Regions from separate parts of the Homo sapiens genome. Here all the other regions are linked to region 1. The links come from fine-mapping of genetic effects on gene expression. A gene starts in region 1. Each other region holds a variant in brackets. All regions are shown on one strand. Distances are between the middles of the regions.

Region 1 (4,062 bases):
AAAAAGCCAAAGGGAAAGAAGAGACCTGCAGGTGGTGTTTCCCCATCTCTCACTCAGGGCCACTTGTCCCTGCCCTGGAGCCTCAGGAGGCTGAGCTCTGCGGCCTGCTTCCTTCTGGCTTGGCGCTGCTCTGGAAGATTCCACCATCTGCGCATAGGCAGGAGCCAAGAAGGTCCACAGTTTTGGGGGGGCCAGGGTGGGGGCAGTTTCTTTCCTGGCTCTTTTTTTTTTTTTTTTGAGATGGAGTTTCACTCTGTCACCTAGGCTGGAGTGCAGTGGCACAATCTCGGCTCACAGCAACCTCCGCCTCCGGGGCTCAAGTGATTCTCCTGACTCTGCCTCCCAACTAGCTTCGACTATAGGCGCGTGCCACCACGCTTGGCTAATTTTTTGTATTTTAGTAGAGATGGGGTTTTGCCATCTTGCCCAGGGTGGTCTCGAACTCCTGAGCTCCGGCGATCTGTCCGCCTCAGCCTCTCAAAGTGCTGGGATTACTGGCACGAGTCACCGCGCCTGGCCTCTTCCCTGGCTCTCTCTGCTGGGTCATCAAGGGCTGGCTGTGTCCCTTGGCCATAGGTCGCAGCTCCTGTTAAGTATCTCTCTCTCTTTGTCTGGCTTCCTGTAACCGCTCTGGCCGCGCTCCTTCAGCCCTGCAGGTGAAAACAGTTCCCTCCCTGCTGTTACCTGTCCCAATTCAGCACCGCCCTGTGGCTTCCCGGCTCCCGGACCGCGCCTCTGCCAGCGGGAACCCTGCTGGACTCTTAATTAATTGTCCCACTGAGAATGCCATTGGTTTCCTCCTGGGATCCAAACTAATCACACAAGACTAGATGATGGAGAGCTGCCAAGAAACCATGGGGCGGTGGCGGGGACGGAGGGGAAGCGTTTTGAGCCCATCAAGGCAGGTGACAGGAAAGAAGCAAACCCGAGAGGGGCCGAGTCCCTGGGCGGGCGGCAGGGCTGGAGCGTGAACAGCAGCGACGGATGCGTCTCGAGGGAAAAACGCGGCGGGAGAGAATGAGGGGAAGGCAGGAAGGAAGGGGCAGGGAGACCCAGCGCCGGGGAAGGAAGACACGAAGAGGGCGAGGAAGGAACTCCGGCCTAAAGGGTGAAGGCGGCGGCTGGGACAGGGCCAGAGGCGCAGGCCGGGGCCGGGCAGCTCCTCCTCTCGTGCCAGCGGTGCCTCCGGTCCCGCCCTCGCTGCTGCCCGCGCTCCGGGAGGGGCAGACCCGCTGGACGCCGCAGTCACCGCGCCGCCTTCGCGGGCGTCCCGGGGCCCGGAGGGAACGGCCTTTCCTGGCTGTCCCCGTGGCTTCGCCGCGGGAACTCACGCCGCCCCCGAAGCTGCCGCCAGCTCCGGGCATCTGCCCAGCCGAAAAGCCAGGGCGCCGGGGCCTGACTCCCCACAGCCAGGTTTCCCGGGCACAGAGACCCAACGGGAGCGGGACTTCCTCGGACACCGACGGCGAAGGACAGAGACAGCCCAGGCAGGGGCGGCTCCTCCCGGCCACACCGACCTGCCCTTCGCAGGGTGTCCCGGGCCAGCGGAGGCAGAGAAAACCAGCTTGCGGGAACGCAGTCGCTCCCAGCACCAGGGCCGGGCCAGTGCGGGTACACACCGTGCGCACCAGCGCCGCCGCGCCCCCAACGGAAGTCCCGCCCCCGGCCGTGGAGGCCCCGTCCCTCGCTTCTTCTCATCCCTGCTTCCCTGGCAGTCCCGTTACCACGCTGTCCCGACGCGAAGGCCCTCGCCCCGCCCCGTGCCCCGCCCCCGCATCGCCCCGCCCCAACCCCACCCCCTTGGCCCCGCCTCACCAGGTTCGCCCCGCCCCTCTCCGTCCCCGCCCCTCCTCCGGCCTCGGCCCCGCCCTCGCCTCGACCCCGGGGGGCGGTGGCTGCCGAGGCGACCGTTGCGCGCGCGGGCGGTGGCGCGGGCCGAAGCGCCCGGAGCGGGAGCGAGCGGCGCGGCCCGGTAGGTGTGCGGGGCCGGGGCCGGGGCGGGGGCAGGGCGCGCCGCCTCCGCTCTTTCTTTCGTCTCCGGGGCGCGCGCCCGCGCCCTCCGCCTCCCGGCCGATCCCGGCCAGCCCTGCGCGGCGCCCGTCCCCTCGGGGTCGCCGCCCGCCCGCCCTGCCTTTTGTTCGCCGGCCTGACTCAGGCTCCTGGTCCCGGGCCCGGCGCGGGGCGGGGCGGGGCGGGGGCGGGGGCGGGCGGCGCGGGGCGCGGGCCTGTGGGGCCTCCGGCCGGGCGGGTGCGCGGCCTCCTGGGGCCCCGCGCTGTGAGGCCCGCCCGGGCCCTTGGCGGGACCCGCGGGGGCGGCGCCGGGCAGGGGGTCCCGCGGGCGAGATGCGCCCGGGAGCGCTGGGAGGGTTCCCTCGTCGGACTCCACGAGCGGCCGCTTTGTTAGGGCAGAAGCTGCCTTCCGAGACCCGAACTCCAGACGCACTGCAGCGACCTGGGGTCGCCTCAGCCGCGGTGCCGCGATTGTGCAGTGTAGACAGAGGGGTCCCAGAGCCGTGCGGTGTAGACAGAGAGGGGCCCAAAGCTGTGGAATGGGGACAGAGAGGGGACCCAGAGCTGTGGAGTGTAGACAGAAAGGGCGCCCAGAGCCATGGAGTATAAACAGTGGAGTGTAGACAGAGAGGGGGCCCAGAGCTGTGGAGTGTGGACAGAGAGGGGGCCCAGAGCCGTGGAGTGTAGACCGAGAGGGGGCCCAGAGCCGTGGAGTGTAGACAGAGAGAGGGCCCAGAGCCATCTAGTGTAGACAGAGAGGGGACCCATAGCTGTGGAGTGTAGACAGAGTCTCATAGCCGTGCAGACAGAGAAGGGGCCCAGAGCCATGGAGTGTAGACAGTGGAGGGTGAACACAGAGGGGGCCCAGAGCCGTGGAGTGTGGACAGAGAGGACCACCTGGCCTCTCACCTGCTTGGTCACTTGCTGGGAATGTGTCCCTGGGCAGGTGACCACCTTCTCTGTGCCTGAGTTTCCTCATTGGACCTGTCTTTGGAGCTGCTGCAAGGGCTAAGAGTGTCTTTGTCTGAAGTCCTCAGCGTGGTCCATGCCGTCCTGTGCAGGGCCCTTCTGAGGCCACAGGGACGTGCAGGATGGCCGGCAAGGCCTGCACAGAAGGGGCGCTGGGGGGCCTTCCCAGGCAAGGCAGCAGCCCCACCATTCACAGCAAGGAGACTACCAAGGAGGGCAGAGAGGCGGCTTTGGGCAGCAAGGGCTGCTGGGGTGGAGTCCTGCTGGCCTTCCCCTAGAGAAGGCGACGTGGGGAGGGCAGAGCAATTCTGAGTAAGGGAGAACCAGTTTATATTTCACTTTAGAAAGTAATTGTCACAGTGCGAAGTTTCTTCCCCTGAAAAAGCGATATAAAAAGGTCCATCGTGGCCAGTGCTTTTGGGGACTTGAGATGATGGGTATCCGGTGCCCGGGCCCTGCGTGGTGCCTCAGCTGGATGCTCTGCAGGTGGGGGAGGCCATGTTGGCTGAGGGCAGGGGCTCAGGCAAGGGCAGTGGGGTGGCTGAGCCTGCACAAGTTGGTGCACCCCTGTCTGGGTCTTTTTCTTAAAACTGCAAGTCCAGCCTTATCTCTGAGACCTCCTGAGGCTGGAACCTGCCATCAGACAGGCTTACAGTTCTAGCCCTGGTAACTGCAATGATGCGGATGCCTCTGTGACTGGCAGAGCAGAGGGAGGAGCGACAGGGCAGTGGTGACCGGAGGTCTCAGGGAGGTTGACAAAGACAAGGGCGGAGGAAAGGCCCCTCACGTGGACTGGAGGTACAGTACTGACCTGTGGAGTGCTCAGGAGAGGGCAGGGGTGGCGCGGCCTGAGGGCATGTCCTGGGGAGGGTCAGGAGGTGGGAGGGAGGCACTCGACAGGCACTGCAAAGAGGAGGGAATCCAGGGTCAAGGGCTGGCTCCCTTTCTGCCCTGTTTAGGATGAGGGTCTCGGGGAAGAAGGGGTGGCCAGGCCGAGGAGACCTGTGGCGCTGGGAGCTGGGACTCAGTGAGGTCCTGGAGGTGGTGAGGGCCCAGAGGTGACAGCTGGTGACCCAGCCGGCC
Region 2 (4,062 bases), 170 kb after region 1:
GCTCTGTTTTCACTGCCTACCAGCTCTCCAGCCTTCCCCTTGGTTCTTGGAGACCTGATTTGCTTCCAATCAACCCCTTCCTACTCAGTGGCCAGCCTATTTCTCCATTTGCAACCAGCAACCCTGGCTATAACTTCTGGGGAAACTTCTGGCTATAACTTCTGAGGCACGGAGCGGGGCAGGAGCTTGCCCAGGGTCACAGCGCTCTCGGCCAGTCTGGGAGTGGCAGCCAGGCCACCTCCTCCTCCTGCAGGAAGCTTCCTCCACCTTTCAGCAGCCCTGGAGCCGCATGGAGCAGGGAAGGGAGTTGTCTACCCTCCGGCATCCTGTGTGTTCCAGGCTGTGTGGGAGCAGGTGCAGCTGCCAGGCATGGCAGGAGCCTGGGCCCGGGCCAGCACTCAGGAATGCAGCAGGGCCCTGCCTCTCCCTGTAGGGATAAGCAAGTGCCAGGCGCCCAGGGCAGCGGATGTGTCTGTGGCTACAGCCCCAACGGCCCCCGCCTCCGCACCGGCTGTCCTGGGCCAGCCCCTTGGGGGCCTGGGATGTGTGGGGAGCATGAATGGGGCTCTGTGACCCAGCAACTGTTCTGCGGAAGGCGGCTGGTGGCTGCACAGGTGACTGCGGGGGTGGGTGGGGGATGCAAAATTCTGCTTCCTGGGCCTGGTGTCCCCCGCCTTGCATGAGGCCCTGACAAGACATCACCGAAGCACCAAAGCCAACCCTTGTGGCCCACCGGAGACCTGTCTCTTGGATCACAGGGGCAGTGGGGAGGGGCGCCCAGGGCTCCCGATGCCTCTGAGCCCTGCTCTGAGGTCAGCCGATGTGGCTCAGTCCTGGCTGTGAGGCCTCACGCTGCCCTGATTCCATTTGCTCCTCAGTGCGAGGCAGACAGAGCCCAGCCTAGGGTCTGGATGGGATGAAATGAAGACGTCTCCTCCCTAACGGGACACTGTCTACCCCTTCCTTCTTCTCCCCCGAGAACCGTCAGCCCCGTGAGGATGGGGTCTAGGGTAGGGCATGTGGACGGAGCTTTGCTGTTTGTCCAGGTGCTTATCTTCTAGGGTGCCATCGCCCCTCCCCACTGCTGTTCCCGTATCTGCTGGGTGTCCCCAACCCCAGGGTGGTGGAGGCCGTCTCTCGGATGGGGCTGACACCCAAGGCACGGACCTGCCAGGTCCCCCAAAGCACATGGCCTCTCTGCAGAAGAACCTGGATGTGACATCTAATGCCCAGGCCAGAGCTTGGGGACAGCTGGACTGGAGCCACAGGGTCAAGGAGGGGGAGTCCAGAAGCGCAAAGTCCACCCAGCTGGGAGGGCTGCTGGCAGGTCCTTTACAAAGCAGGCAGCTCCTCTGCCCATCGGAGCCGGCTGGCCTAACCAGGGCCTGCTCTTGCCTGGGATGGGGGCAGAAGAGGTGGAGACCTGGGGCCCTGAGGCGGCACTGTGGGTCCTGGACCCGCCCACCTGCACTGGGGTCCCTGCAGGCTTTTAATGGGAACAGAAATGGAGGAAGAGACAGAGGCTGCCAGGGGCTCCCCGACCCCTACTGCCTGCCTGGGGAGGGGTCACCTCAGTGTGGGGGAAGCCTGGGGATGTGAGAGCATCCTAGGCCTGGGCTGCCTGTGGCCAGTCTGTTGTCCGGGTGTCTAGTGACCCCTGGGGTAGGGGCAGATGCCAGTCTGGGAAGCCGGATTGTTTGAAGACCAACTTTAAAGTTGGGAGCAGTGCCCAGAG[CG/C]GGGCCGATGTCTGCTAGGTGGTTGTCTCTGCTTTTTGAAAAAGAAGTCCCCGCCCGACCCCCGCCCCGCCAGGCGCTGGTCTGAGCGTCTGAGCCCAGATGGTGCGCTTGCTCCAGAGGGCGGGCGGCTCCAGTGGCCGCCGCGGGACGGTGGGGCCAGAGGGGCCCGTGGGGGTGGGGGAGCCGCCCGCAGGAGAAGGAGCCCCGCCCGCGCCGGCCCTGGAGTCGCCGGTGTCGCCGCCCTGCCCGCGGGCCCGCCCTCCTGGCCCAGCCCAGGGCCCTGCGAGCTATTTTGAAAGTGACCCTGGGCTGGGGCGCCGGGGCGAGCGCGGCGGCGCGGAACCATGACAGAAGATGACCGAGGCGGCGCTGGTGGAGGGCCAGGTCAAGCTGCGGGACGGCAAGAAGGTCGGGGCGCGTCGGGGGCGCGGGGGGGGGGGGCGCGGGCGCGGGCGGCGGCTCACGCTCCCCCCTGTCCCCGCAGTGGAAGAGTAGGTGGCTGGTGCTGCGGAAGCCGTCGCCCGTGGCAGGTGAGCGGGGCGGGCGGGGGACGGGGGGCGCGGGGGTAGCGACACGGGTTACCGAGGCCCGGGGCAGTAATGCCAGCTTGCCCAAAATCGCCGCCGCTGTCACCCCGCCGGGAAACCCGAGAGCCCCGTGCGGACCCGGACCCCCCGGCGCCCCTGGGAGCGCAGGTGGGGGCCCTGGACGGAAGAACCCTCTTTCCAGCAGGGCAGACTGAGGCCCGAGGGGCTGCCTGGTGGCCCTGTAGGCGGAGGGGACGCAGGCCCTGAGCCCCCCAGCAGAGCAGCAAGGGGCCCCCCAGAAGCAAAGCCCCACATACCTGAGGGTTGAGCTGTGCTTGTGGAAACGCTCAGAGCAGGGCCCCCGAACCCAGCCTCCAGGGGTGCTGCGTGGGTTAGCGCTGACCCTGGACCCCTCCCAGGCAGACGAGAGGCTGGGCTGCGGTAGGGCAGGGCAGAGTGACTGCCACATTGCTGGGGGAACAGTCCTCTGGGAGGAGGCAGGGGTCCCCCCCCAGTCCCCGCCCTGAGCCAGCACCCCAGCTTGGGGAGGGTCAGCATGGAGCCCCCAGGTCTGGCAGCCCAGGCCGCCTGCAGCGCTGGGCCTGTAGGGAGGGCTGAGCCGGGCCTGCAGCTGCTCCAGAGGACAGGTGCGGCAGAGCCGGCCAGGCCCGGGTCTGGGTGGGATGCTCGGCCTGTGTGCATGGGGGGCTGTACGCCAGGGGGCTGCCAGAGCACCCTCCAGGACGGGTGTCTGTGACTCCCAGGGAGGGTGTGGGGCAGGGATCCCTCCTGCGTCCCCTCTGCAGGGCCTCAGGTGGTCCTGGAGGAAAGCACTTCCTGCCTGCCTCCGCCTCCCCTTGCAGGGCCTGGACTGCACGCTGGTCACTTCTCCACTCAGCCCTCCGTGCCCAGACCTCCTGCCTGGAGCTGTGGGGGCACCGACAGAGCCTGGGAGGGCGTCTTTGTCCTCCGGGGCTGCAGGGGACCTGGTATAGGAAGGGATGGGGTCTGGGCAGAGTGAGAGGCCCTGCCAGGCTGGGGCGGATGACAGGCTTTAGTCAGCTGTGGCTGGGTCGGGGCCGTGGTGGGGCAGGTGATGCTTGGTGGATGGTGCTGGGCTGGAGCCGGTGCAGACCCTCCAGAGAGGCCGCATCCCAGGAAGGCACCCGGGACAGCAGCCCCCAAAGAGGAGTGTCGGGGGAGAAGTCTTTGTCCCTGTTGGAGGGATTTTCTTTCTGCATCAGACAGTCCCAGGAGGCAGGGCCTGCCAGCCTCAAGAGGGTGTGCTCCCCCGGCCGGTGAGTGCCTGAGTGGAGTGACAGGAGTTTGCAATGGGTCCCCCAGGTGGGACAATCTGTGAGTCTGTAGGTGAACATGGTGGCTCCCGAGCGTCTGCTGGGTTATCCCGTATCCTGCGCAGTTGAGATCTGCAGCCTTCTGGGGCTGGCGTGGGAGGTGATGTGGGGTAGTAGAAGGTGCCATGCCCCCTCTGGGTGGATGTTCATTCCAAGCCTTGAGGCCAGGTGTCCCTAGCACCCACTGACTCACTGGCCTGGGACCCATTGCTTTGGACACCTGCTTTCTGTGTTGGTCACTCCAGCAGCCCAGGGTTGAAACTGACACCCTGTGGGGTTGCCCAGAGGTCGGTCAGATGAGGGGATGGGACAGAGCGGAGTTCTCACGCCCACCTCCCCACCCTGACCAGGCCAGCCTGGCACCTCCTCTCCGCTCAGAGGCCCTGATGCCTCTTCCCCTGGCCCCTCATAAGCCTCCCTAGATGCTGCCCCCTTTGCCTTCAC
Region 3 (4,062 bases), 150 kb after region 1:
GGGGGTTCCAGCCCCAGCCTGGCGGGGTGAGCACTGACCTTGTCGCAGTGCGACCAGAGGTTCCCAGTGGCTACTTGGGGTCCTTGGGAGGAGGCCAGAGGGAGGGTCGCCACAGAGCGTGGGGATTTGAGGGGGCGGGGGTCCGAGCAGGGGGCTTACGTTGAAAGCTGGCCCTCACAGGGCAGGTGGGTGCTGGACTGGCCTTGGAGGCTGGGGCCTGGGCTCACGGAGCCCCACCTGGGGGCTGTCATCCCTGTGCGGCCTGGCCTGGGCCCCTATGGGTCTGGGGGCTGCCCCCTCTCTCTGGACCTCTGTTGGGTCTGGATGCGTGAGGTTGGGGGAACCTCCCAGGGCCTCCTAGCTGCTCCCATCACCAAAAACTGACGTCAGGGTTTAAGCTTGGTGGGTAGCAGTGCCTGGGCCTGGGCAGTGACCCTGAGCAGGTGTTAACTAGGGGCCGAGGGCGGGGAAGGTGTCAGGGCCTGGCTGAGGCCTCAGGAATGTCGTGTGTCCTCCTGGAACCTGCTCCGAGATCTGGGGGCCCCAGTATGGAAACAGGCTCAGGGCTGTGACCTCCTGCCCGGCAGGACCTGAGTGTGAGGGTCTGTCCCACACTGACACCCTTTCTGCTCCTCCTAGAACCGTACGGAGTCCCCAGAACCTAATGCCACAGCGACCCCTGCGATCCCCACTATCCTGGTGACCTCTGTGACCTCTGAGACCCCAGCAACAAGTGCTCCAGAGGCAGAGGGACCCCAAAGTGGGGGGCTCCCGCCCCCGCCCAGGGCAGTTCCCTCGAGCAGTAGCCCCCAGGCCCAAGGTGGGTCAGGTGGGCCTGGGAGGAGGTGTCGTGCTTCACCTTAGGGCTGGGTGGGAGGAGCATGGCTGCGGCTGGAGGTCCTGAGGGGCTCGGGTGCCCCTCGAGGGAGCCCTGACCCTGCCACCCCCTCCCCACAGCACTCACCGAGGACGGGAGGCCCTGCAGGTTCCCCTTCCGCTACGGGGGCCGCATGCTGCATGCCTGCACTTCGGAGGGCAGTGCACACAGGAAGTGGTGGGTCCGGGCAGCCGGGGCACCCGAGCTGGGGTCACCTGCCCCACGCTGCCTGCTTTTCTGGGAGCCGGGCACACAGTAGGCGCTCACCACGCAGCAGGCGGACCCAGTGAACCCAGAGACCCTCCAGGGTGGTGGGGTGGGGTGGGGGGCCTCTGCCTGGGACCCCCATGCACGCAGGTGTCGCCCCCCAGGTGTGCCACAACTCACAACTACGACCGGGACAGGGCCTGGGGCTACTGTGTGGAGGCCACCCCGCCTCCAGGGGGCCCAGGTGGGTGCTGGGTTGGGTAGCCTGGGGCGGGCAGGGGGCACTGGGCCAGGCCAGAAGGGCCAAGGGGAGGATGGGGCGGACCCGGGCAGGGGTCCTGGCTGGAGGGGAGCAGAAGAGGAGCTCTGGGATTAACCCCGGTGGGTGCCACTTAGGGCCAGAGCCTCTCCCAGGTGGGACCTGCGTCTCATGGTGGCTGCGCGGCCATCGCTGGGGCCAAGGCGCCGCCTGGTGGTGAGGCCGGGCCCTGCAGCCACACAGGCGTGCCCCAGGCAGGGGACAGGTGGGCAGGGTCTGTGGGGTGCGGTGCCAGCCGCCCTGCTCACATGGGTCCTGGGACACATGGGAGGGGTCTGCTGCCTGACAGTGTGGGTGTCAGGCTTCCAGGAAGCCACGTGCACAGCTGGGCCAGTGGCCCAGGTGTTGAGTGGGGGACGCTGGGAGGAAGGGGAGGTCTGTGCCCCTCCCAGGGACCTTGCACCCCGAGGGGCGTAGAGAGGGCCCCTTTGCTCTCAGAGCCCCTCACTGGGGCCTGATGGACGCCTTAGCAAGCAGAGAATGTCACAGAGGGACCCTGAGCCTCCCAGTCCGCCCCTCACACCCCCTCCCGCATGTCCCCAGCTGCCCTGGATCCCTGTGCCTCCGGCCCCTGCCTCAATGGAGGCTCCTGCTCCAATACCCAGGACCCCCAGTCCTATCACTGCAGCTGCCCCCGGGCCTTCACCGGCAAGGACTGCGGCACAGGTGAGCTGGGCCTCGGAGGTCCGCAGGGGTCCAGGGGCCGGAGCAAGTCCCCGGAGGATGGGAGAACAGGTGGCTCCCGAGTGCAGGGCAGGGGCCCTGCACGGGGACAGCAGGTGGCAGGGTGTGAGGGCTTACTGTGCACCCCTCAGAGAAATGCTTTGATGAGACCCGCTACGAGTACCTGGAGGGGGGCGACCGCTGG[G/T]CCCGCGTGCGCCAGGGCCACGTGGAACAGTGCGAGTGCTTCGGGGGCCGGACCTGGTGCGAAGGCACCCGACATACAGGTGCGCCACGGGGTGTGAGCCGTGCCACTGACCCCTGACGGGTGTCCCTGTCCACACCCGAGTGGGAGGAATGGCCTGAGGTCACCCAGAAACAAGGGACAAGGGGTGGACCCCGGCCCCGACTCCGCTGTCGTGGGGCACTGCGCGGCCCCTGGCCCAGCTCCTCGGCCCTGCCCCCAGCTTGTCTGAGCAGCCCTTGCCTGAACGGGGGCACCTGCCACCTGATCGTGGCCACCGGGACCACCGTGTGTGCCTGCCCACCAGGCTTCGCTGGACGGCTCTGCAACATCGGTGAGTGGGTCAGCCCCCCGGGGTGCCCTGGGGCAGTGCCGGGTGGACCCACCGTGGGCCGGCCTCACTGCCCCTCTGCCCGCAGAGCCTGATGAGCGCTGCTTCTTGGGGAACGGCACTGGGTACCGTGGCGTGGCCAGCACCTCAGCCTCGGGCCTCAGCTGCCTGGCCTGGAACTCCGATCTGCTCTACCAGGAGCTGCACGTGGACTCCGTGGGCGCCGCGGCCCTGCTGGGCCTGGGCCCCCATGCCTACTGCCGGTCAGCACCACGCCGCTCCAGGCCGCCGCATGCGGGGCAGGCAGGATTTGTCCTGGGGAGAGGCCCCCCGGCTCCCTAGGACCCAGGCGGGGCCAGCTCCGTCCAGACAGGCCCCGGAACCTCTGCCTGGGAGGCTGCCCGAGGGAGGGCCACTCTCTTCCCACTGCTCCAGGTGCGGGGAACCGCCCTGCTGGGGGTTCCGATGCCCCCTCCCCATGCCCTCTTCGAGGGGCAGTGTGACTCCCTGCCAGCCCCCACTTATGCACCGCAGGAATCCGGACAATGACGAGAGGCCCTGGTGCTACGTGGTGAAGGACAGCGCGCTCTCCTGGGAGTACTGCCGCCTGGAGGCCTGCGGTGCGCGGCTGGCGGGGGGTGCTGCCTTGGGCCCCACCGAGGTCACAGCAGTTTTCCCCGTGATCCTCCTAGCCCCTCCGCACACCTGGCTACTGCATCTCTGACAAATGGGGAAACTGGAGCTCACGGGATCAGGCTGGTCCAAGGTCACGCAGTGGGTCGGTACTGGGGTCACAGTGGGGAAGCAGCCCGCTGCAGGGGGCTGGTCACCAGGCGACGGCCTCGGGGTGGCACCTGCCCAGCCTGGACCATGCCCAGGATGGCCGCAGAAGCCTTTCAGGGAGGTGCAGGGAGGGCAGCGTGCAGGCCCCCCAGAGGCCACCTGCTTCCTGCCCTGGGGAGAGGCCCCCCGGCTCCCTAGGACCCCGGCGGGGCCAGCCCGGGGCTCTCATGTGGGGGTCTCTGACTGTGCTGGGGCTGGCTGTGGGGTTCCGGGCTGCTGAGGGGGCCACAAAGGCCTCCGTGTGTCCAGCCCCTCTGGCCCTCACAGAGCCTCGGGATCGGGCATCAAACCCCATTCTACAGATTTGGAAACTGAGGGCAGAGGTGAGTGGGCGCCAGGGCCTGAGCAGCGTGGACAGGGGGTCCGGCCATGGCCCTCTGCAGCGCCTCCTGCCGGGTAGGGCCTGTGTGTGGAAGGGGGCTGGCCCTGTGAACCCCAGGGGTGTGACCCGGTGACCTTTGCTCCCAGAATCCCTCACCAGAGTCCAACTGTCACCGGATCTCCTGGCGACCCTGCCTGAGCCAGCCTCCCCGGGGCGCCAGGCCTGCGGCAGGAGGCACAAGAAGAGGACGTTCCTGCGG
Region 4 (4,062 bases), 96 kb after region 1:
TTAAAGAATTTTGTGCACAGGGATTCTTTTCATGGACTGATTGAAAAGGAAGTAGGCAGGAATGTCTTATTTCACTGAAGATTTCTCTGATGTCATCCTTATCATTTTGGTTCAATGATTTAAAAAAACCTCTCCAAAGTAAGGAGAGTTCCTCCGAAATATTCCTCTTTTCTTCTAACACTCCTGACAGTCCGCAGGCTCTCGGGTTTCATCGTCACCTCACGCTTTTGTCCCCACTTCTGTCCCTGAGAGCTGGAATAGGTGCACCTGGCATCGCTGTGGGCCAGGGATGGGCTGAGGCACAGGCTGTGCTGCAGAAGCTGCCCAGGGGCCGGTGGGTTTGAGGTGCCACTGTATTTGTGCGTTAAAGAGAAACCAAATGTCGTTCTCTCACTTTCTGTGGTCCTGCAGCTGCTGGCCTCAGTCCTCGGCCTCGGAAAGGGCTGCTGTCCCCAGGTAGGCAGACAGAGCTCAGAGCCCTCGCAGGCCAGCCACTCTGTAGGAAGGCCAGGAGGACCCCAGGTGGGCAGACAGAGCTCAGAGCCCTTGTGGGCCAGCGGCTCTGTAGGAGGAGGAGCATATCTTGGGTTACACACGCACTGGCACCTGAAGCCGAGACCAGAGGGATCCCGACACTCGTGTGGTGGAGATGTATTTTGTAGAATAAAAGGAATTCTATTTCCTATTTTATGTACAATGAAAATCATGTCATTTAATCAGTCTTAAGGTGGAGGGAGGATAAACTTCCTTAATGAAAAGAAACAGGACCCGGAACCAAATCCAGGATAAAGTGACCGGTGTTTTGAATGATCTGTTCATGCTTTCTCTTTCTGCCGTGTTCTCACTTCTCCTTTCTGGCAGAAGACATTCATTTCTTGCAGGCAATTTATACATGAAAGATTTGCCTAATATGTTTAGTTTCACCATATATAATAAGTTTTATTTGCCTCCAAAAGATTGCTTCTGTCAGCAATAGATGCAGGAACCCAGAGTTGTGTTATGTGTCCATTTTACAGTTGTTTAAAAACCTGCACCTCCCAAGGGTGGGAAGTCTCTAGCTCCTCGCCGTGCTGGCTCTGTGTGTCCCTCTGAGGAAGTGTGTCCTGGCTCCTCGCCACGCTGGCTCTGTGTGTCCCTCTGAGGAAGTGTATCCTGGCCACGCAGAGATCCCCTGGTGCTAGGGCTTTCCACCCCCTGCTCCTCCTTCTTTTCCCAGTGTCAGACCCTGGGGCCACTGGGACAGGCCCGTCCCTCCATGGAGAGCCCCAGTCACAGAGGAGGAGACGGGAGGGAGGAGGAGACGGGAGGGAGGAGGAGACGGGAGGGAGGAGGAGACGGGAGGGAGGAGACAGTCATCAGCACACCCTGAATTTCAGGAACCGCAGTGGGCGGGCTGGATGTTTATTTAGTTCCTTTTTGTGTTTTTGTTATTTTTCCATCTTCAGTTTCTTTGCTTATAAGAGTAAAAAGAGCCAGTTATCTTGTTTAATGTGCACATGAGCTCTAGATCGGTGTCACATTCTGCCGTTGTTAGATGTAGGGCACCGAGGCAGAGTGGGGAGATCCAGCAGCTCACAGTAGTCTGCAGGTGAGATGGCCAGACTCAGGCCTGCAGGGGAAAGCCCTGGCTGAGAGGCCCCTCCACCCTGGCTCCCACCCACCCCCCAGCCCTGGGCCTCCACACGCCCAGCCCCATGGTCCTGGAGAGTCCCCCGCTCCAGCCCTGGACCCTCCAGCGCCTGCAGCCCCTGCTGCCCCTTCTGGTGCCTCAGGCAGAAAGAGGCCCCCTCCCCCACACCCTGCCCTCCACGGCAGTGACAGGAGCCTGGGCGGGGTCGGGGTGGGGGGGTGGTCCCAGGGAAACTCTGGCTGTGTTTCCACACAGAGATCTTTTTATAGGCTGTGGTCAGTGGGAGACTCAGTGCACTGAGGTGGGCCTGGGAACTCCAGCACCCCAGTGTTTTTATGGGAAAAATGCTCCCCGAGTTCCAAGGAGGGACTGAGGAGTTGGCTTGGGGAGCAATCTGCTCAGCTGGGCTGTCTCTGCCTGGTCATCCTGTCTAGTTTTGGTGATTAATAGATCACTCACTTAGAAATATTTTGTGTTCAACGAGCCGTGCCAGTGAGAGAGTTCGTGTTCATGCCACGGTTTCATTCTGTGACGCGTATCGTGCTTTTATAGCTTAGGCTCTCGCTGGAGAGTTTTAGTTTTGTGGCTCGGTTTTAAGGAAGTTGGACTATGCTATTTTGG[C/A]AATCTTTGTCAAGTTGGAGTGTGTTTTTTCACTTTTTCAGAAGAAAGGGGCTGATAATGGCCACCCGTTTGTAGCCAAAGAGTGCCCTCGGGAAAAAGGGTTACAGCTGGTCTCTGGGGGGCACGGCAGGGCTGTGGGTGGGGGCAGGGAGCAGATTCCAGCTGGAGAGAAGGAAGCACATTCTAGCATTATAGAGAGGCTTAGCAGGGGAATGGTCTGCCTTGTGGGAAGTTATTCAGACAGAAGTGTGAGGTCGAGCTGGAGGGAGATGGGGCGTTGTGAAGAAATGAGAAAAGGAAGATGCCCGGTTGCTCCTGGAAAAAGGAACCTCTCACCTCTCCTGGTCTGGCTCTGCACAGAGCTGGAGCCGCGGCCGCACAGAAGCCCGTTCTTGTGGCTTCCTCCGTTGGTCAAGCTCTGTGCCAAGAGGCCTGCCAGAATCCCCTCACCCACTGCAGCCTCCACAGGTGGATGTTCCCGCTGTGACCACCTCACCTTCTGAAGTCGGGGTGTGGAGACTATCGGGGAGCTCCCAGAGCGCCCACCTCCTCCTGCGTACGGCGTCTGTGCCAGCAGGAAAGCCGGGGAACTGTGCGGCTCTGGCTTTGGGGGACGGTGGCAGGTCCACATGACACCCCACATACATGACCCCGGTGCTCCAGCTGCTTCTCAAACACTCCGTTCTCGCAGCCTCACCCTGGGGACCCCCGACACGTACTAGTCGCAGTCCTCCATCCCCATGTCCTCCTCATGCCTTGTGCCTCAGCTCTGCCCTGACCCCACTCTGTCCACTCAGCTGCCCCCCTACTCGTCCTCCATGCAGACCTCAGTCTTGGCCCTGTCTCTGCAGCCATCCTCCCGCTCCCTTCTCCTGAACGCTGGTGGTTGCCCCCACAGCAGCAGCAGTGATCTGCCCAGCCCCTGCACTGGACCCCTCCACCAGCTCAGAGCCCCTGTTCCCCCAACCATCCTGCGTCCCACCCTGGTCTCCAATGGTGCCTCAGGCACATGCGGTTTCCCTCTTCCCTTCCTGACCACCTGCCCCCATCCTGAGCGATGGCCACTGTCAATTTCCTGCCCGTGCTAGGGGCAGCTTCCATCATTTTAATTATTCATCTGTGTTGGTGCTTTTGTCCCCCCAGCTGGTGTGACCTCCACGTGGCAGGTCAGAGTTGTCCCGGCACCCGGCACAGCGGCTGGCACGAGAGCTGTCTGTTGAGTGAATGATCGGGTGTTCAGCAGACATCAGCCAGAGCGTCAGGGCGAGGCTTGGGCGGGGACAGTGGCTTTCAGTGATTTTCCTTTTAGTCGTGAAACCTTCTCAAAAAGCACACACAAGCACAGAAGCAGAAACTCCTGTGTGACTGGTGTTGCGGGGTGGACCCACTGCCGCCGCCTCCTCCTGGGCTGCTCTGCGCGCCTGCCAGGCTCTTCCAGTGCCTTCACCCAACACGCGGGCCTTTGGAGCTCAGACCTGGCCATGGCGGAAGATTCGGGCTCCACCTGCAGCTCCACAGCTGACAGGCCGATCTCTTGGGGCAAGTCACTTTCTCTCTCCTAGCCTTGTGTCTTCATCTCGCCGGTCCTTGTTAGCGAACAGGCACTGAGGCCTGGGGAGCTGTCACAAACGGCTGCCTGATGGGGGAGGGTTACCGTAATTGCCGGATTAACTTGGGGGACTTTAAACTGCATTCCTCTTTAAAATATAAAGTATAATTGTTGATATTTTTGGCAAATGCCAAAATTTGTATTCTATACAATTTTGAAAGAGAAAGGGAAAAGCTTGAGAGTAGAACCATCAGTACTTACA
Region 5 (4,062 bases), 21 kb after region 1:
TTATGTGATTATTTTGGGAGGCCAAGGTGGGAGGATTGCTTGAGGTCAGAAGTTTGAGACTAGTCTGGGCAACATAGTGAGACCTCGTCTACAGAAAAATTAAAACATTAGCCAAGGTTCACTGGGTGTCTTCTCCTTGGCCCCTTTGCCCACGTGGTGAACACTGTGGACCTGTGAGGGTGTGAGGGTTGCGTTCCTGCGTTCTGGACTCTTTACCCACTACTGAGAAGCAGCCGTTTGAAATATGAGTTGGCAAGGAAGATCAGCATGTAGGCTTAGACCAAGACGGTATGTGCAGCCTCCTGAGCTAACTGGGCCTGTGCTTGAGCCCAGTGATGAGCAGCCTCAGCAAGAGGAACCACCACCTGAAAGTCGGGGTCTTACCTGGCCAGGAGAGAGAGGAAGATCACGGTGCTGCTGAGATTCTTGTGCTTGACCAGGAAGCTGATCTCCGGGAGCTGTCTCAAAGACTGGGATGAATGTGGAGATGGTCCTGATGTCCGGGGAATATTCTGCCGAAATCAGAGCAATTTAAATTGCCAGAAGGAGGTGAAGGGCAACCACAGGTTCCAAGGAAGACAAGCTGAAACAATGCAAACTGGTTTTATATTAGATACGTGACTTAAAATATCTCAATACAGTTTTCTCCAAAAAAAAAAAAATAGTTAGCCGAGTATGGGGGTGTGCTTGGTATGGCTTGAGCCCAGGAGTGAGTTTGAGGCTGCACCGAGCAATGACTGTGCCACTGCACTCCAGTCTGGGCAATGGAGTGAGACCCTGTCTCTAAAAAATAAAAACAAAGAAACGTGATTATAGATAATAAGATATTACTTACATGAGTTACAAACCATTTCTTTTTAATAAGCAGAGGCCCATGACAGTAAGAGTCTAGTAGAAAAATTGGGTGGACTGCATAGAAGACATTGTCCATCATTATGTCACACAGTGTGAGGCGGATGGTGCGAATAAACTGGGAAGTCATGTCTTTCATTGAGGCAGCATCTATTCCTGTTTGGAAGAGAAAGCCGAGAGGTGTTCTGTTCCCCGAGGAAGCCATCAAGGCTTCATGACCTGCTGTCCTGGGGCTGTTCACAGTGATAGCTGGCACTTGCCGGGAACAGCAGCACCTTTGTTGTGTGACAGATGCTTTTCTGAGCGTGCTTTAGTGAGACCGTTTCACGCATGTCCTGCTTTCCCTCTCCCCTCACCCGTGACAAAGTGATTCCCCCTTGTATTTGTTTCCTGGGGTTGCTGAAAGAAATTACTGCAAACTGGGGGGCTTAAGACAACACACATTCATTCTCCTGCGTTTTCGGGGGCCTCGTGTCTGCAGTCAGTGTGACCTGGCTGATGGCAGGTGTGGCAGAGCTGGTTCCTCTGGTGACTTTAAGTCTGCTTCCTTCACCTTTCCGGCTTCTGGAGGTGACCGCCTGCCCGTCTGCCTGGGCTCGAGACCCATCCTTGAATCCCTGCAGTCTCCGCATCCTTCCTCATGTGGCCGTCCCCTCTGGCTCTGACCCCAGGCTCACACAGGCGCACCCCACACTCTCCCCATCTCTAGAGCCTTCACGTGGTCACGTGGATGGGAGGAGCCATCCAAAAGCTTGGGAGTGAGGATGTGGGTGTATCAGGGGCCATCAGCCAGCCTGTCACACCTCTTAAGAAGATCGATCCCCAGACGTGTTTCTTGGCCAACTTTTACATTTATTTATTTATTTTTTAATGATGATTTTTAATAATTTTTAATTATTAAAAAATTATAAAATAATTTTAATTATTTTATTTTTTAAATTCATTTTTTAATGATTTTAAATAGTTAAATGCCCAGTCCTAATATTTAAATTATTAATACAGTACTACTTAGATATTGAGTAATGTAATTTATATTCATTTTTTACTCTTTTCCATCAAAACATAATTTTACTAAGTACGCATGTTCTGTGTCCGTGTTTTGTCATCACTGAAGCCACTTTTGGAGTCACCTAGTAATAGCCTTTCCACTCTATCTAGTTCTGTAGCTTTTATGTGTGTAAATTACTTCAAATCTGTTTATGATCCTATTGCTGGAAACTTTATCCCAAGACACAAAAATCTTTTCTATTAGAAGTTATTAACTTTAAAACAATTATTTATTTTATTTTATTTTATTTTTTGAGACAGAGTCTCGCTTTGTCACCCAGGCTGGAGTGCAGTGGCACGATCTCGGCTCACTGCAAGCTCCACCTCCCGAGTTCATGCCATTCTCCTGCCTCAGCCTCCCGAGTAGCTGGGACTACGGGCGTCCGCCACCATGCCCAGCTAATTTTTTTTGTATTTTTGGTAGAGACAAGGTTTCACCGTGTTAGCCAGGATGGTCTTGATCTC[C/T]TGACCTCGTGGTCCACCTGCCTCGGCCTCCCAAAGCGCTGGGATTATAGGCGTGAGCCACCGCACCTGGCCTAAAACAATTATTTCTTTAAAAAAACATACCCTCTATTCTATTTTGTGTCTTCACAACACAATCACTTACTGTATTGCTTTTTAAAGTGATCTTTAAAGAGTCTTGCAGAAGAGACTACACAGCAGGCCCGAGACCATCCTGAGAGGCCTGTGTGCAAGGCTGGCCCCCCGCTGGTGTCAGGACGGTGCCCACCACCCTCAATGAAGAGGGGCTCCCTGTGCTTAGCTGCTTGTGTGGGGAACAAGGTTTGTGCTGAGAACCTTCCTTTCTTCTGGGAGTCCAGAGTCTGGGCACGAAGCAGGCAGAGGGTGCCCATGTGCCCAGCCCCCAGTAAAAACCCTGGCACCGAGTCTCTAGTGGGCTTCCCTGGTGACGACACTGCACATGCGTTGTCACGGCTCACTGTGTAGGGAGTTAAGTGCGTCCTGCGTGACCCCGCTGGGAGAGGATTCTGGAAGCTCAAGCCTGGTTTCTTTGGGACATCGCCCCATGGACCTCTGCCCTTGCTGATTTTGTGTGGAATCCTTTCGCTGTAATGAATCTCAGCTGTGAGAGCACCTTTGTGCCAAGTCCTGGGAATCCTAGGGAATCACTGGCCTGGGGGTGATCCGCGGACCACTGACAAGTTTGTTCTCAATGACAACCAATACTTTTATACCCCCTGGAAGAATTGAGTTAATATGACATTTCTGCTTTTTTAGGTGGTGGTTTTTATCTAGCCTGTTGAGTGGCCTCTGCAGTATTGATCGAGGTTGTTTCAGGCTAATACGTTTTCCCCCACACAGTATATTCAAAATAAATTAATGTGGGAGGGTCATGGAATATTAGGTGACCCCTCTCCTGAGGGAAAACTCTATGTCAGGGGATTTATGATCAACTAAGGGGTTAGACTCAGTGTTCTGCAGGTGCCTTTGAACCTGAAGCCTGTAGCAGGCCTTGCTTCTCACGCTTGGACTCTGCCATCCTGTGAAACGTGGGTTTGGGTGTGTTTCTTCTGTGTGGAGCCCGAGAGTCTGCCTTTCAGACGGGCTGCCAGTCCACGGACCACACTTTGAGTAGCAAGGGGCTCTTTCCATCCAAACAGGGTGTGGAAGCAGTGCTGGGAAGCAGTCCTGCATCCTCACACCCGTGGCAGGTGGGCCTGGCAGGAACTTGTGTGGTAACAAGGTAGCAGTTGTGGGAGACATTTTCTACTCCGAAAGGAAGTTTCTTAGCCTGACTTGAAGATTTATTATCTATAGACACTTAGAGGCTCTTTCTGTGGTGGTTTTTATTATGAATTATCTTTTTGTGTTTAGCTAATACCAGTGAGTGGTGGAGAAAGATGGGCTCTTTAATAATGAGCTGTTCGTTTTTCTTTCTTAGGGCACTGTTTGAAGAAGCAAACATGGTAGCATCAAGCATTCCTTGAAATATGGCTCCAAGGGAACAATGAGACGTGCTCTTGGTCTTGGAAGCTCATCAGAATGTTTAGAGCTGGGGAGGCCTCCAAACGCCCATTGCCTGGGCCGTCGCCCCCAAGGGTGCGGAGTGTGGAGGTTGCCCGGGGGAGGGCCGGCTACGGATTCACGCTTTCGGGACAGGCACCCTGTGTGCTCAGCTGCGTCATGAGAGGGAGCCCTGCG
Region 6 (4,062 bases), 45 kb after region 1:
AAATTCGAAAAAAACTGGGCCGGGCGTGGTGGCTCATACCTGTAATCCCAGCACTTTGGGAGGCCAAGGCAGGCCGATCATTTGAGGTCAGGAGTTCGAGACCAGCCTGGCCAACATAGTGAAACCCCGTCTCTACTAAAAATACAAAAAAATTATCCGGGCATGGTGGTGCGTGCCTGTAGTCCCCGCTACTTGGGAGACTGAGGCAGGAGAATTGCTTGAATCTGGGAGGTGGAGGTTGCAGTGAGCCCAGATCGCACCACTGGACTCCAGCCTGGGTGACAGAGTGAAACGCTGTCTCAACAAACAAGCAGGCAAACAAACAAACAAACAAAACCCAAGGGCTGGAGCCCCATGTCCTGTCCCTCGGTGGTCTGGGCCCCAGCTCCACCGGCTGTTTTCCTGTGAGCTGCCAAGTTGGAGTAATTCCTTCTGCTTCCCTGCATTTTCCCAGCCCTGGGGTGGCAGCGGCTTCCCGAGGTTGCTACTCCATGGCATCTCAGAGTCCCTCTGCCTTTCCATCCCTCAATACCAAGCTACCCCTTCTCTACATAGTACTCTCTGTTAGAACTACGGGTGGTTTCTGTCTCCTGAGTGAACCCTGAAGAATATAGCAGGAGATGCGAAGATGTGAGCTAGAAATCTGACTCCTCGTAAGTCTCTATATTGCCTCTTTTTGGAAATACCTTCGGATGATCTGGTCTCTCTTTTAAGCTACATACTCTCTTGTGTACAGTCTATTTGTTCAGTAAGTATTCATTGAGTACTTGGTATGCACCAAGCACTGTGGGAGGGGTGGGGGTGTAGTCGTGACCAGGACATGGTCCTTGCCCCACTGGGGCTTAGGGACTAGTGTTTATTTAGACCGAATTGGTTAGGAATTTTTAGTTCTAGCAGTGTGGGTAACGAAAGAAAAAAATACATAAATTGCATTACATCAAATGTAAAAACTCTACACATTAAAAAACGCAACCCACAGAATGAAGGCAACCCACAGAATGGGAGAAAACATTTGCAAGCCATGTATCTGATATGCAGTTAATATGCAGAGTCTATAGAGAACTCCTATAACTCAGCAACAGGAACAAACAACCCAGTTAAAAAATGGGCAAAAGTCCAGTGTGAATTCTGTGAAGTAGAAAAGAAAATAAAGAGAAATTAAAATAAAAAAAAATGGGCAAAGATCCAGTGTGAAACTGTGAAGTAGAAAAAAAAATGAAGAAAAAGAAAAATTAAAAAATGAGCAAAGGACTTGAATAGACGTTTCTCCAAAGAAGATACACAAGTAGTCAATGGGCACGTGGAAAGATGCCCAACATCATCAATTATTAGGCCAGCGCCAACTAAACACACAGTGAGTCAGCACCTTACACTCCTTGGGATGGCTACTATAAAACAACTGCCACCACCATCACAAGAGAGAAAAATGACCCGTGTTGGGCAGGATGCGGAGGAGTTGGAGTCCTGGCGCACTGCTGGGAATGCCAAGTGCCGCACCCACCATGGGAAACAGTGTGGTGGCTCCTCAAAAAACCAACAGTACAATGACCACATGGCCCACAGTCCTACTTCTACGTATATACCCAAAGAATTGAAATCAAGGTCTTGAGGAGATGCTCTTTATACACATGTTCATAGCAGTATTATTTGCAATAGCTGAAAGGCAGAAGCCACCCAGATGTCCATCATCAGGTGACGGATAAACACAGTGTGGTCCATCCATACCGCGGAATATTATTCAGCCTTGAAGAGGAAGGCTACAACATGGATGACCCTTGAGGACACCATGCTCAGCAAAATCAGCCAGTCACAGAAGGACACACACTATCTAATTCCACTTATGTGGGATTCCTAGAGCAGTCAAATTCATAAAGACAGAAAGCGGGAGAGGGGGCCTGGGGGAGGGGAATGGAGAGTGCGTGTTAAATGGGGGCAGAGCTTCGTTCTGGGAAGATGAAAAATTCTGGAGGACGGTGGTGATGCTTGCATAACAGTACGAACACACCTAATGCTACTGAGCCAGCTAACTTGGTAAATTTTGTGTTATCTGGATTTTAAAATCAGATTGAATAAATATTTTGAAAGTTTAATAAAAAACGGCAGTGCAGTAGTACAGCAGGAGCTGGGTGTTGTCTCAGGTCAGCCATGAGCTGTGTGACCTTGCACGGACTTGCTTCCCTGACTTCCCAGTTCTCATCTGTGGATTGAGGCGTTGGAATGGTTCTTACGCCAAAATGATTCTT[T/C]GCTCCGAACTGATGGTCGCATGGGATGATTCACTGTTTTGTTTTAGACAGAGTTTTGCTCTTGTTGCTCAGGCTGGAGTGCAGTGGTGTGAACTCAGCTCACGGCAACCTCTGCCTCCCAGGTTCAAGCGATTCTCCTGCCTCAGCCTTCTGAGTAGCTGGGATTACAGGCATGTGCCACCATGCCTGGCTAATTTTGTATTTTTAGTAGAGACAGGGTTTCTCCATGTTGGTCAGGCTGGTCTCAAACTCCCAACCTCAGGTGGTCCACCCGCCTCGGCCTCCCAAAGAGTTGGGATTACAGGCGTGAGCCACTGTGCCCAGCAATTCATTGTTGGCACTGAGAGTGGCCAAGAAATTTGGTACCTGAGCAGGGGTTAAGGTTCTACCCTTCCCCTCCCCTCATTTCTAGCGGTTTTACTTTGGAGGGAACCCGATGCTTTTCTGGGCCTGTGTGTGGTAGTAATGCCGGTTGACCGGCCGTCCCTTGGGACCCTGTAGCCAGGCAGGTTGATTGGCCTGAGGCCCTTGGTTCTCCCTGAAGCCGGCTGGCTCAGGCTGGCTCACTGCATCCTGGATGCCTGGGGGCCAGGGTGACCGGCCTCTGTGGTTGGCGGGCGGGCGGTGTCTGCTCCACTCAGTGCCCTTGAGTGCTGGGTGTGGTGGCCGAAGGCTGGGAGGTGGAGATGGTGCCCTGGGGGCCACCTGTCTTCTCAGACAGTCGTGAGGAGTCTTCTCAACTTAAAAGCTGGAGTTTGAACCAAGTGGTCTTTTAGGCCATTTTTATTGTTGTTTTCCCTGTTTAGTACTCTTTGGGGAAGAGTCAAGATTATGTCACACCAGCAGGGGTGCTAAATCGGCGGTGATGATCTGAATTTATTAATTTACAAAACTTTGTCAATTTGAGAAACACGAGTAAACGCTGGTCTCTCCCTGCTGTGGAAGTTGTCACATCTGTTACTGGCCCTCGTTCCATGAGTTGATTTAGTGCTTTGCAAGAATTGTTTTCTGTCTGCTTGTTAGACTTTTCCTTTCTCCTTTACATCTCCAAAGTGCACAGTGCATCCACGTGTGGGCAGGCGTCAGACATCCTTTCTTTTGCCTGTGCTGGGAACAAGTTGCAAGGCTGACTGTGGAAGGGCCGCTCACCTGGGGCGTGGTCAGGGCTGCCAGGTGTGGTGGCTCACACCTGTAATCTCAGCACTTTGGGATGCTGAGGTAAGTGATTGCTTGAGCCCAGGAGTTTCAGCTCAGCCTGGGCAACATAGCAAGACCCAGTCTCTACAAAAAATACAAACATTAGCCGGGCCTGTTGGCACATGCCTGTGGTCCCAGCTACTCAGGAGGCTGAGGTGGGAGGATCACTTGAGCCTGGGAGGTCGCGGCTGCTGTGAGCCATGATCATACCTCTCCCTCCGGCCTGGGCGACAGAGTGAGATCCTGTCTCAAAAGAAAAAAAAAATTAAACTCTCTTATCACTGTCCATCTAAATAACAGAGAGAGGCTCTCTGAAAGAAATGATGTTTATCTGGGAGCAGGGCATTGGAGTAGGCAGATACTTGCCATGGTCTACAGTGCATAGCTGGGGAGGCCAAAGAAGACAAAGGCTTTTAAAGGAAAAATGAGGATCACATGATTGTTTTGAGATAATTATCCTTGCCACAAGGATCAGCACCAAGGATGATACCAGGCTGGAGGTGGGCGGGCGGTTGCTGGGCAGATGTCCTCACAGTGTGTTTTGAGTGAGGCTGTGATGGCCTGTGTGCATGGCTGTGATTTGCACATCTTTGTGATGGATTTGTTTTTCGCAGGCACACTA
Region 7 (4,062 bases), 110 kb after region 1:
ATATGTATGTTGGTAAAAATGCTTTAAAAATTCGACAGACCAACACCAAATTAATAAGATGGATTATCTTTGGGGAGGGGGTATAGGACCAGAATTTTAGGTGATAAGCCCAATAGGGATTTTAGATTTATATTTACATTTTTTCAAGGAAGAAAATATTTTATGAATTATGCATTATAATGTCAGTTTATATCCCTTTCAGCCTGTAGTCTCTCATTAGCTGTTACTTGGGACAAGCAATCCACTTAGTCAGACGATGTTATTGGATGCCTAGGATGTGCCTCGCACTGTTTGTCACAGTGTTCCTTTCATGTCAGCATAGACGCATAGTTATTATCCCAGCTTTATAGGAAAGTTAAGTAACTCGTAAGTTACTTGGTGAGGAGGGGAGTTCTCACGCTGTCCCTGTGAAGTCCGAGCACGGTTTTTACTGCGGTTTTACAGCGGGGGGAGTGTCTTGCCCAGTGAGGAAGGAGCGGAGCTCTGAGTCAGATCCAAACAGTGTGACTCTGGAACCACGCCGTGAACCGGCACACTGTGGACTAGGTAACACCAGGCTGAGGATCCACCTCCTAGAATACAGCTTGCCATAGAGCAGACATCCCGTCAGCACCTGTGAATCGTGAGAAGGAGGCGGTGGCCTCATTTACCGCATGCTCACCTTAAACTTGCCCACCCGGTTTTAGGAAGAGAATGGGCAGAATGGCTGGGTTCCCCATGGAGGAGAGCCCTGCCTTAGCCTCGTCTCTTGCTGCGTAAAAGTCCAGGGCTTTGCAGAGCCTCTCCACAGTCAGCAAGGAGAAGCAGTCTCCAGAGGTGGCCCCCTGAGCCCCAGCTCCACCCCTGGGAAGGGGCCAGACCACAGGCAGCAGGCCCTGGAGCCCGTGAGCGCTGCCTACCTCCCTGGGCCAGTGGACATGGGACCAGCATGGTGACCAGATTTTTGGAAGCCCGGTTTAGGACAAATGACTTTTTAAGTTTGATTGTTTGATATCAGAAGTTATATAAAAGGTACAAACATTGCATTATGCTTAGTTTTACATCTAACATATTATATTTATTATTAAAATTATGTGAAGTCATCACAGTCCCAGCAAATACCATTTATATGGCCACCATGGCTGAGAGCATCCACCATCTGCCCCTGATGTGTAGAGTAGGCCTTTTTTCCGTGTCTTGTGTTACCTCTTTTTGGCTTATGGGGTGGCCTCTAAATGTCACAAATCCTTTATGCTTTTACACACTCAGGCCCTTCCTCCTTCCCTGAAGCCTGGTCCTCTGGCCTCAGTCCTGCTGGGTAGGGTGCCCTTTCGTCCTCTCTATCCCTGGACTCTTTCAGTGGAAGCACAGGTCCCCAGGACTGTGTCTTCAGTTTTCTGTGTGGGTGGCCCCACCTTGGCTTGAGGGAAGGGTTTAGGACCACTTTTGAGTCTTCCTCATGAGGTCAGCATTTGGGGCCCCTGGGCTTCTGCATTGGGTGGCGTCCTCTGCGTTGGGTGGCGTCCTCTGCGTTGGGTGGTGTCCTCTGGTGGGGCCAAGCCACAACCAGAAGGTCTGAACTTCCTGTGTGGCCACTGGCACAAGAATAGAAGAAGAATGTCTTTACAAAGTATAAATATTTTATTCATCAAAATGAAGTAAGTCAGTTTCACAAAGGAATTAACCACTAAATGAGTAATGTGAAGTTTTTTCAGCTCAAGTAAGCATAATAAATGAAGTCAGTTAGGGTTGATCTTTGAAAAATGTTCTGTGTCTTTTCTTGGAGCATCCTGAGGGCTCCCTGTGGTCAGATGTGACCTCACCAACTACTTATGGTCATAGTTGGTAGCTCTAAGCCTAGAATCCTAAAAATTCAGAGTGACAAGTGACATAATTCACTCGTCTTTGCACATCGCCTAACACTTCCCACACTGACCTTCGCAGGAGCCGCTCTGCTCACTCGCATGGCCTCATGGGCTCTGGCAGCATTTCACCCCCGCCTGTTGGCATTTCACTCTCCAGAAGGACTTGGTGTCACTTCAGACGTAGAGAGTTTGTTTTGCTGGGCTCTGCCAGAATAGTTATAAATCACACGTTTCTAGTACTGACTCCAGGAAAGACCCAGAATTCAGATTTCTCCTGTTTGGGCCCACATTTCTTCTGGCCCTCTGAGGTAACGGGAAGTACACTATATCTCGAGGGGTCCGTGAGACCTGCCAGGCGTGGCAGCTCCTCTGCAGGGCTGTGAGGTCTGGCTGTGGGGGCCAGACTCACGGTCAGCCCAGAAAGTGCTGCTGGGGATAC[C/T]GGGACCTCACCATGGAGAATGTGGAGTCTGGGCCCAGCATAGTCACTGATGTCAGCCCAGGCAGGTCATGGAATGTTTTGGACCTCAGCAGCTTCATCTGTAAAATGGGCTGATTGACTGAGATCGATAGCATGTAAACACTTTTCTGAGGAGGTGCTATTCCAGATCCCTGTTTTCTAACCCTCAGCAGGCTCTGCTGTTGTGGCAGGCTTTTGTTGAGATGCAGAGCTGGGCCGGCCTCCGCAGCCTGTGCTGCTTAAAGCAGAGGGGGCCTGAGCCTACCCTACCTGTTCTTGCCCGACATGTCCTCCTTCCTCCGCAAGCCAGCCCCTCACAGGGATTCCCGTAAGATTTCTCTGGGAAGAAAGGCCTCATTGCTTTAAGTTTGAAAAGCATCTTCCAGTTGATAACTGGGGAATGAAATAGATACTCTGAGACCCAAAGGGGGCTATTGACGTGGGGTGATGTGACAAAATGTGGATACAAAATTTCACACCCCAGTATGAGGCTGGGGTGAAGCTAAGGGAGTAAGGAGGGGGCTATGGGCTGTGGCAGCCCTCCCTGCACTACCACACTTCTGTGCAGAACTTAGGTTCCAGAATTCTAAATTAAACCTGGCCTTCCAGGTTGTTGGAGGGTAGCGAGATGGCATATAGCTTATTTAACAATGTGTTAGCCTTTGTTACAATTTTCCAGCATTTAGATATATGGTGTAAGCTCCTTCGTCTACACTTGCCCCAAGCCTTGCAAAGATTAGTTCTCTTCCATGAGAAAACCAAGGCACAGACATGCTCAAGGCCATGTGATCAATCACATCATGGCAGCCAGAGACAGAAGGATTGTCCTGAGGCACAAGTCTCCACATGGGGATTTTCTGTGAAAGTGAATTTTGCCGCTGTAGTGACTGCATGGTAGGTATTCACGAGGCCTGGCTGTTTCGAAAGGGAAACAAAATCACTTTGGTGATCAAGTGCAGGCTTTAAACAGTAGGTGGTAGGATTTTAAGCTGGGCGAGTAAGTAGGTCTGTCTGTGCAGGGGTGTGGGTCAGTCGTTCTTAAGCTGCTTTCTGTTTGTGCCAGGCTTGAGCACAGGGACAAACACATCAGAGCTCATGGGAGCCAGTTCCCCACTGCCAGCAGGGAGTTACAGAGATGGAAGAGGAGGTGAGGATGTGCTCAGGGTGTTGGGTTGGCATTGGAGGCGTCAGTATGAACCGATGGCTTTCAATAGAGGGATGTGTGGATGGAGAGATAGACATAGCAGTGTGTGCGTGTGCATCCACATTTCCCAGCTCTGTCCACCAGGGTGGGGCTGGAGGCAGGGAAACCCCAGTAGCAGTGAGCACCTGCATGTCCAGATTTTGGTGTCTATACCTCTTTTCTGTAGAGGGTGTCAGGCTCTGTGGAGCAAAGACTAATTCCTGGGCTGGAGTGGGAAAAACACAGGATGAAGCTGGAGCTTCGCTTTTATTTTTTTTCACACCAGAAAATAAGGCAGTGCTTAAGGCATGATGAGGACACATGAGCAGGATACAGGTGCCAGCCTGAAGGAGGGACTGAGCTTCCAAAAAAGAAAGGTGTTCATGGGGTATGAGCCATGGACTAAAATAAAAACCCAGCAAGTCCACACTAACACAGATAAATGGCTTTGTAGTAACAGGAGGGGGGCTCTTAGAGCAGAATACAGCTGAACAGTGCGTCAGGAAATCATCAGAGGGTGCTAAAGTTGTGGACTCAGGCTTGATGCGAAGCAAGACACTTACAGAGCCTCGGGGTAG

Evidence for each region.
Region 2: its variant is fine-mapped to the expression of RGS12 in cerebellar hemisphere (GTEx, PIP 0.94).
Region 3: its variant is fine-mapped to the expression of RGS12 in whole blood (INTERVAL, PIP 0.98).
Region 4: its variant is fine-mapped to the expression of RGS12 in blood mononuclear cells (TOPMed, PIP above 0.99).
Region 5: its variant is fine-mapped to the expression of RGS12 in whole blood (TOPMed, PIP above 0.99). The same link has a PIP of 0.9 or more in testis and transverse colon.
Region 6: its variant is fine-mapped to the expression of RGS12 in whole blood (INTERVAL, PIP 0.98).
Region 7: its variant is fine-mapped to the expression of RGS12 in whole blood (TOPMed, PIP above 0.99).

Annotation. Positions count from the first base shown.
Region 1 is chr4:3,291,128-3,295,189 of GRCh38, forward strand. RGS12 (regulator of G protein signaling 12) reads left to right here and starts at 1,894. Exons shown (of 18, transcript NM_001394154.1): 1 at 1,894-1,972. RefSeq lists silencers at 1,200-1,309, 1,490-1,969, 1,980-2,029, 4,053-4,062 and an enhancer at 2,683-3,268.
Region 2 is chr4:3,461,286-3,465,347 of GRCh38, forward strand. DOK7 (docking protein 7) reads left to right here and starts at 2,021. Exons shown (of 7, transcript NM_173660.5): 1 at 2,021-2,144; 2 at 2,221-2,266. The coding sequence starts at 2,091. RefSeq lists an enhancer at 799-1,646. The variant CG/C (reference allele first, on the strand shown) is at 1,736.
Region 3 is chr4:3,442,093-3,446,154 of GRCh38, forward strand. HGFAC (HGF activator) reads left to right here. Exons shown (of 14, transcript NM_001528.4): 1 at 1-26; 2 at 640-820; 3 at 958-1,054; 4 at 1,249-1,328; 5 at 1,947-2,069; 6 at 2,219-2,350; 7 at 2,531-2,641; 8 at 2,727-2,901; 9 at 3,173-3,258; 10 at 3,950-4,062. Among named protein-coding and RNA genes, the nearest start is that of HGFAC, 2.2 kb to the left of the region's middle. RefSeq lists a silencer at 1,406-1,455. The variant G/T (reference allele first, on the strand shown) is at 2,272.
Region 4 is chr4:3,386,922-3,390,983 of GRCh38, forward strand. All of the region lies in intron 4 of RGS12 (regulator of G protein signaling 12), which reads left to right. Among named protein-coding and RNA genes, the nearest start is that of HGFAC, 53 kb to the right of the region's middle. RefSeq lists enhancers at 1,039-1,308, 1,999-2,148. The variant C/A (reference allele first, on the strand shown) is at 2,252.
Region 5 is chr4:3,312,268-3,316,329 of GRCh38, forward strand. RGS12 (regulator of G protein signaling 12) reads left to right here. Exons shown (of 18, transcript NM_001394154.1): 2 at 3,803-4,062. The coding sequence starts at 3,904. It also overlaps the pseudogene LOC100286945. Among named protein-coding and RNA genes, the nearest start is that of RGS12, 21 kb to the left of the region's middle. The variant C/T (reference allele first, on the strand shown) is at 2,365.
Region 6 is chr4:3,335,791-3,339,852 of GRCh38, forward strand. All of the region lies in intron 2 of RGS12 (regulator of G protein signaling 12), which reads left to right. Among named protein-coding and RNA genes, the nearest start is that of RGS12, 45 kb to the left of the region's middle. The variant T/C (reference allele first, on the strand shown) is at 2,244.
Region 7 is chr4:3,401,155-3,405,216 of GRCh38, forward strand. All of the region lies in intron 4 of RGS12 (regulator of G protein signaling 12), which reads left to right. Among named protein-coding and RNA genes, the nearest start is that of HGFAC, 39 kb to the right of the region's middle. The variant C/T (reference allele first, on the strand shown) is at 2,284.